Linked DNA regions of Homo sapiens. Changing the gene in region 1 together with any one later gene gives a genetic interaction. Each region holds a gene or a part of one and is shown on either strand. Other genes may lie near its edges. The genes, in order: ONECUT1 and KAT2B.

Evidence for each region.
Region 2: of ONECUT1 (region 1) and KAT2B, changing one enhances a phenotype caused by changing the other (phenotypic enhancement), as found in Homo sapiens cells (one study listed by BioGRID).

What each region holds. Positions count from the first base shown.
Region 1 is NC_000015.10:52,783,772-52,787,585, reverse strand, and holds part of ONECUT1 (hepatocyte nuclear factor 6), read left to right. Parts: intron 1-3,814. UniProt on the Homo sapiens protein: Transcriptional activator. Binds the consensus sequence 5'-DHWATTGAYTWWD-3' on a variety of gene promoters such as those of HNF3B and TTR. Important for liver genes transcription.
Region 2 is NC_000003.12:20,102,750-20,106,563, forward strand, and holds part of KAT2B (histone acetyltransferase KAT2B), read left to right. Parts: intron 1-3,814. UniProt on the Homo sapiens protein: Functions as a histone acetyltransferase (HAT) to promote transcriptional activation. Has significant histone acetyltransferase activity with core histones (H3 and H4), and also with nucleosome core particles.

The DNA.
Region 1 (3,814 bases):
CGAAGAGAAAAGGTAAAAGCCGGAATGAGGGTTTGTTAATTAACTGATCGTTCTCCATTAATTCGTCCCTGGAGAACGAGAGACAGTCAATCCGCTCTGAGCCGGGGGCACTGAGCCGTTTCACAGTCTAAAATCAAAGCGTGAGGCCAAAGCCCCCTCCTCCAACTCGTGCCTGCCAATGAGAAGCTGGGGGTGGCAGGTGCCGACCAGCCTGCGATTCGTGCCCCGAAGCGACCCAAAGCGTTCTTTGGGTTTGGGCGCTGCAGGCCACCGGTCCCAAAGCACCGCGCTGGCTGAGACTCTGCCCTGCCAGGTTTTCCAGCCCAGCTCTGCCTTCGTTCGCCCCAGGCAAAGTCCTCATGCAGGTTCCTGCAGCCTGCGCCCGGGAACCAGTCAGGGGAGAAGAGGCTCGCTGGGCGCCCCAGCGAATCGCTGGCCCCCGGTTTTCCACTCTCTAGCTCTTGTGCTACCGGCACCATATCTCCACCCGTGGGCTGCCCGCGAGCAACTGAGGTTCCGGAGGGAGTGGGCGAAGGGGCTGCTCCTCGTCCTGACTGCTCCGTCTCTCCAGAGCCCAAGGTAGTGCCTTTTCACACACCCACACCACCCCAGAGCCAGGCTTCAGGGCCTCTTACCCAGGCAGTGCCCGCTGAAGCCAAAGAGTGGAGCGGGGGAATGTGGGAAGAAGATAGAAATGGAGAAGGCTACCCCTCCGGGAAAACTCGGTCCCCATCCCCCACCCCCGCCCCCTGGAGGCTCTTGCTCTGGACTTCAATATCCCTCCTCCCCCCACTGCCTGCTGTCGCCCCCTGGAAGGACAGACTGACACGTTCTGTTCAGAGACGACCTCTGAGCCATGGAAACCTGGCCGCAGGAGCGCCCTCTGACCTCCAAGCGTGGAGAGCTACATAGCCGAGCTCAGGGGACGGCACTGTGGAGGGGGAGGGAGCCTGAGTGCTGGGACCCGCACGCTGGAGGCGCAAACATGGTGCCTGGCAGGTGCTTGTGGCACCCAGGAGGCTATCGAAGGAGCGCCTGCCTGGGCACCCAGCAACCTGTAGAGGTCCATGCAGCCCTCGGCCCTAGGCCCATGGCCTTTTCCTCGAAAAAGTGAAACACTGGAGAGTCCAGCAGGGCAGGCATTTGGCACCAAACACCAAGCCGACTCTGTGTCCTGAGACCCTGAGGAAGCATGTCTATTACATTTTTGTTTCCTTAACTTAAAAGGGATGGTGGAAAGGGCTAGGACTGAGGATTCTGTGTTGGTCCAGGAGGGTCTCCTGCAAGGAACCAGGAACAGTCTCTTCACAACCTATTTTTAAGTTACTGAAGAAGGAGCCATCTCATTAACATTTTCATATTTTAAAAAGAGTGGGGTTATTTTCTGAACTTTCCAAATGATCTCTAACGGGCCAAGTGCATGAGCCTTAAAATGGATTGCAGAGCGCCTTGGCCGTTCCTACGGGACATTAGTGCCTGCCCCCCACTACCAGCTCCCATATGGGGAGGTGCCCCTGGCAGCTTTCCTTGCTGTTGCGCTCAGAGACCCTCCCCAGTCTCGTTCCAACCACCTTGCGAGGTCAGGGCTCACTGAGCTCGGTTCCTTCGCTCCGCAGCGGGAGAGTGGTGGCTTCTCCACGCCCCTCTGTCCTCCAGTTGCCGGCAGCCTGTTGCAGAGGGTCAAAACCCTCTTGCACGTGGCGCTGTGTTTGGGGAGGCGCCTTCCGGTCACGAAATAACAGCGGCTGGTGGAAGAAGGGCGACAGGAGGAAATTCCCACCAAATTAACTACCTTTTAAAAATCAATATATGTTCCCTCCATGTACTACTTGCTGCTGCCCCATTAAAGAGCAGAGCGACAGGGTTCTCGCCGCGTCTCCTCCGGGATGAGGCGGGGGGTGTGGGTGGGTGGCGCGCCTCTGACGTGGGCGTCTATCAAGACCAAGATTAGTTTCCAATTAAAGATTCCAGAGGGCTTCGGCCACACAGCAGGAGCTGCCGGCTCGGAAAGAGACAGCGACACACACCCAACAGCAAGCGCAGCACCGCGGACCCAGGGGAAGGCGGCGCGCAGGCCCGAGGTTCGGGCGGGGGTGGGTGTTGGGCACTCCGACCCTGCCCTGCGGGACTTGGAGGCGAGGAAACCTCCAAACCCCGCGGGGGAGTTGGCGGCGCCCCCTTCCCGTCCGGTGTTTGCCCCAGAACGACCTAAGAAGGACCTGAGCCAAGGGGGGAGGGGTTCGGTCGGGGGGCGGCCATGAGAAAGTCTCGCCCAGCCCAACCTGGGCTGTGTTTGCCCTGAGTGGCCTTGCGGCCTGGTTGATTGATAACTGGCCCCTGCACAAGTCCATTTGCTTTTTTGTTAATATTTATCCCGGGGTGACATTTCAAATGTCCCCCTGCTTTTCTGGGCCATGGGAGTCAGGCAGGAGTGCGGGGCCCTAGGCAGAGCCCTTCAATCCTTGAAGACTTCTGGGCCGGGAGAGAAGCCAGGACTGGGCGTGTGGGACGCAGGAGCTGGAAGCGTTCCTGGGTCCAAGAGTTGGGGGAGAAGGAGTCAAGCGCAGCGGTTTCCTCGCGCTTCGCGTCTTGGCGCTGTGGGTCTGGTGTCGCGCAGCTGCTCCCAGCCCGCTGCGGCGCGAACAAAGGGCCAGCAGGGCGCGACCGACCGTGTCCGCCTCTGAGCCCGGGGCGAGGGGCGCCGCCAGCTGGGAGCGCCTCCTCCGAAGGCCTAGGATGGCCTCCTACGGAGACCAAGGAGTCCCAGAGCCCGCCAGGCCGAAAAGTGGCAGTGCATCCCGGTAGTCAACTGGGGACCCTCACACACACACACCTAGCCGACTGCAAAACCAAAAAAGGTCTCGCTCCTGCGGACAGTCACCAGAAGGCTCTGCGTGGTGCCTGTCTCACGGCCGGTGTCTGTCCCCTCGAGGGTGTAGGACCATAGTTCCCCCTGTGTAGTTCTCTCTGTGTAACGGGCATAAACCCGGGTGAGGAGAGGGAGGTGCGCTTGGGGATAAGAAGTGGGCTCGTGGCGACGACTGGAACCGCTATGGCTGGGGCAGGGGAAACCTACTTCTGGGGCTTAAGGGGGGCTGATGGCTATTGTGTGGCGACCTTGGTGTCAGCGCAGCTAGGATGCCTGCCAGAGACGAACTCCACTACCTGTTCGGAGGTATGCGGCTATCCCGTCAATGGGTGCAGCACCTATCGCCCTGGAAGCATCCGGAGAGGGATCCCGGTAGCTGGGGCGACCAGCCTGACCCAGGGCACAGCGGTTGCTAGAGACCCAGCCCCGACATCGCCGCTTACCACCGACACTTGGGTCGGACAGTGCCAACAATAGCACGGTTGTGTTGTAGCAGCAGAGGACCCAAATCCCAGGATGCGCCTCTCCTTATCTGCAAGCCTCGAGCCCTCCGCGCTCCCTGCTTCCCTCCATTCGGCTCCCTTTCTGGGGGTAGCCGGGCTGTGCTGCGGCTGCGGCGCGCGCCCCCTGCGGGCCGTCGGGGCTGGGCGACCCGCGAGCGTCCGTGGTTCAGCCCGCGGCAGCGAAGAAAGGGATGCTTGCTGCGCCTTTGTTTTTAGAACGTCGTTGTTCTAGTGAATTTCAAAACAATAACTATTTTGATAGGAAGAAAGTGTGAAGGAGGAAGAGAAGGATATCTAGAGGGTCTGTCGGGGTACCTAACAATGCCTGGGTGTTACCCAATTCATGAAAACAAAATTCTCATCTTCCGAAGTACACCTCAGCTCTAACCTCCCCAAAAAAGATGCGTACTTGGATTTTGTATCCGAAGTATGCTTTTGTTGG
Region 2 (3,814 bases), on another chromosome or scaffold:
ACTTTTTTATAACTTTTCTATAACTTTTCTCTGTTTATATTTCAGAGGCACATCAAGCTTGCATTAGGGAGCTTTAGTGCCTACTTTTTTCCTGATTTAAAGTGGGCAGTAGTATCTTTTGATAGCCTGTCAAGACCACTTGTGCCCAGGTTATTTTCTGTAACAGCAGATAACATGGAAGAATTGTATAATTTAAAATAAGCTTTCCTCTCTGACATTGACCTAGTTTCATGTGTAACACACCCTTTTCCTCTCTTTCTCTTCACTTTTGCAAATATATGCAATTTCAGTTATAAAGTATTTTCTCCTTAATAATTGATATTTATAGGAATTGCAGATTTCTTCAAAATAAGTTTTTAAATTATATCTTCATTTCCGTATCTTTCATTTTAGGATTTTACATTAACAATAGTTCTGTATTATTGAAACTCTGCTATATTATTGAAACTCTTGTTTATAATAAGAGTTGAGACGATAAGTCTCTCAAAAATATGTATTTTTTAATCCCGTCTGTGAACAATTGACAAAGCTGAATATTTGTCAAAGCCAGGGCCCTGAATGCATTTGCGACTTTTAGCAGAGAAAATAATCGTTTCATCAAGAAAAAGGAGAATTAATTGTGAAGCAGCTTGGGAGACATTAGTATATTTTGTTTTATTTTTATTTTTATTTTTTTTAGAGATGGTGTCTTATTCTGTATCCTGGGCTGGAGCGCAGTGGCATGATCATAGCTCACTGTAGCCTCAACCTCCTAGACTCAAGCAATTCATCTATCTCAGCCTCCTTAGTAGCTGGGACTACAGGCACATGCCACCATGCCTGGCTATTTGTTTATTTTTTATAGAGATGGGGTCTCGCTGTGTTGCCCAGGCTGGTCTCAAACTCCTGACCTCAAGCAATCCTCCCACCTTGGCCTCCCAAAGTGCTGAGATTACATGTGTGAGTCACTGTGCCCAGCTATGATATTTTAGAAAACAGAAGAAAAATGCAAGGCAGCCTTTGAGAATTACTAAGAAATTGGTGGCACTTATGAATACTTAAGAAGTAGTAAAAATGGAAATTGGTTTGGATGAGTGCTGGGTTTGAATGGTGTGGGTCCATCTCTCCCTTTTTACATGAGCTTTAGACCAGTCTCTGGTCTAAAGAGACTTTTGGTTTCTTTCTCTGTCCAAGTGTCATGACTTTTGTGAGTATTCCATGGGTGGTTTGTATGTAGTTTCTGACACACAGAGCAGGTGCTGGGAAGATGCTCATCATCATTTTCCTCCCATGCACATTGTTCTCTAAAACTCAGTCACTGCCAATGTGGAGCTTATTAAGCTAAAGCCTTAAATGTATAATTGAGTGAGTGTGTAATTATTTGAATATCGCTTTAGAAATTAAGATAGCAGGGAATAGAAAAACAGCAAAAGAGTCCTTTATAGCCCAGCCTCCTGAGCCAACAGCTGAAGGCAAAAAGTGGAGTCAGACAATGGGAAAGAGAAACTTGCTGAGAGAAACAGAAATGAATATGCCCTAATGAGTTCTGAAACGTGCTGATTTCTAGGTGAAATGTAGACCAATAGCCCCTATTAATAATAAATAAGGAAATGAAGGTAGATGACACCAACCTCCCCCACGTCCCCACCATCACGTCATGTTGATGAGGAAAGGGAAGTAGAGAGGAACAACCTGTGAAAATTAGGAGAATCAATATTCGGAGTAAAACCTCACTGCCATGACCACATGGGGAATTAAAAAAACCACATACCACCACAGCATGATGTCTCACTGATACTGATCTTCTCAAAAATGGGTAATATTACTGGCTGCAGGCACCAGCAGGCTTTATCTTGATGTTGCTGTAAGAGAACCTCAGGACCTATAACGCTGGTTCAGCTTATAACTTACAGCAGTTACTGTAAATATTAGAACAAAGATGTGCCGAAAATGTTTGCAGTATATCAGTCTGAAAATGAAGTTAAACAGGATTCTTTGTGGAAAAGACTGGACTTAGAAAATGATTGTGTTCATTACAGAGCTAACTTGTAAATATTTATTCCATAAAAATTAAAAGCAGACTGAACAGTAGTACTGCTTAAATTACTTCTCTGTTCTGAAGAAAAGAAAAATATAAGTATTCTTTTTTTGTTGTTTTTTTGTTTTTTTTTTTTTTGAGATGGAGTCTCACTCTGTTGTCCAGGCTGGAGTGCAGTGGCGCGACTCAGCTCACTGCAACCTCCACCTCCTGAGTTCAGGCGATTTTCCTGCCTTAGCCTCCCAAGTAGCTAGGATTACAAGTGCGTGCCACCATGCCTGGCTAATTTTTGTATTTTTAGTAAAGATGGGGTTTCACCATGTTGGCCAGGCTAGTCTCGAACTCCTGACCTCAGGTGATCTGCCTACCTCGTCCTCCTAAAGTGCTGGGATTAAAGGCGTGAGCCACCTTGCTCAACCTAAATATTGTTACATAAGTGTATGTTAACTGTACCTTATATATACTCCCAGGAGCAATTGTGGTTATAGAAAAAAATGTGGGCAAATATTTTGAAGTTCCTGAATTTCATGATAGTACACTATTTAATTCCATGAAGAAATAACCTAAAAAGAAAGTGTCACAGGATTATGACTTCTTAAAATACAACTGTCCAACAGTCTGCTGAAGGAAAGTGCAAGTAATTAGTCTTAGATTTTGAATTGTGTAGAACTTTTGAAAGTTAAAGCTTACCCCCACACTGGGGAGATGTTTCATAAGAATACAGAGTGGCTGTGTGCAGTAGCTGATGCCTGTAATCCCAGCAACTTTGGGAGGCTGAGGCGAGAGGATCGCTTGAGCCCAGGAGTTTGAGCCCAGCCTGGGCAACAGAATGAGACTTCATCTCTACAAAAATAAAAATAAAAAACTAGCTGGGTGTGGTGGCATGTGTCTGTGGTGGCATGAGCCTGTGGTCCCAGCGACTCTGGAGGTTGAGGTGGGAGGATTGCTTGAGCCCGGGAGGTCAAGGCTGCTTGGAGCTGTCCATGATCCTACCACTGCACTCCGGCCTGGGTGACAGAGCACGACCCTGTCTGAAAAAAAAAAAAAAAAAAGAAGAAGAAGAAGAAAAAGAATACATAGCAAGTTAGCTAGAACTAACTTGTTTTTGGGAAACAGTTTTATTTAGCCATTCTTCTATGATGTACAGCCTATTGCCATGTATACTGAGCATTCATTATTAGACATGTAAGTCTAGAACAGATTTATCAGGAAGCATGGAAAGAACACTAGGAAACAGGAGATCTGACTTCTAGTCTGGACTTTAATTAAGTAACTGGGCCTCAGTCCCTGTGAACTAGGGCAGATCAGTTTATTCCTGAAAACCACAGGATTTTCAGTTCAGCAAGTCAGTAGAATGACATGGTCTTCTGTGTTCACATTTTTAATTTCTGTTCACAGAAGTTACAAATCATCATCATGATGTGAAAAATCTGGGAGTTATTTGAACAGTAAGAAAATAGCATGCAAATACCATCTTTATTAGACATACAAAAATGAACGAACTATCATTTTGCTTCTTTTTAGTAGACCCGAAATCAGTCATGTAGGTAAAATCTTTTCTACAGTTACTTCTTTGGAGGAATACATGTGCTCATGCACGTCCGTTTCCTTCTTTCTGTCTCACTGTGTGCAATAATAATATCAATCAATTTATTAAAACAACACCAGAAGTACACACACACACACACACACACACACATTCTGTCTCTCTCACACACACACACATTGACTCAGCCTCATTGTCTTAATCTACAGTGAATTTAACAGAGTACAAAATAAGATTAATCTTGGAAGTTA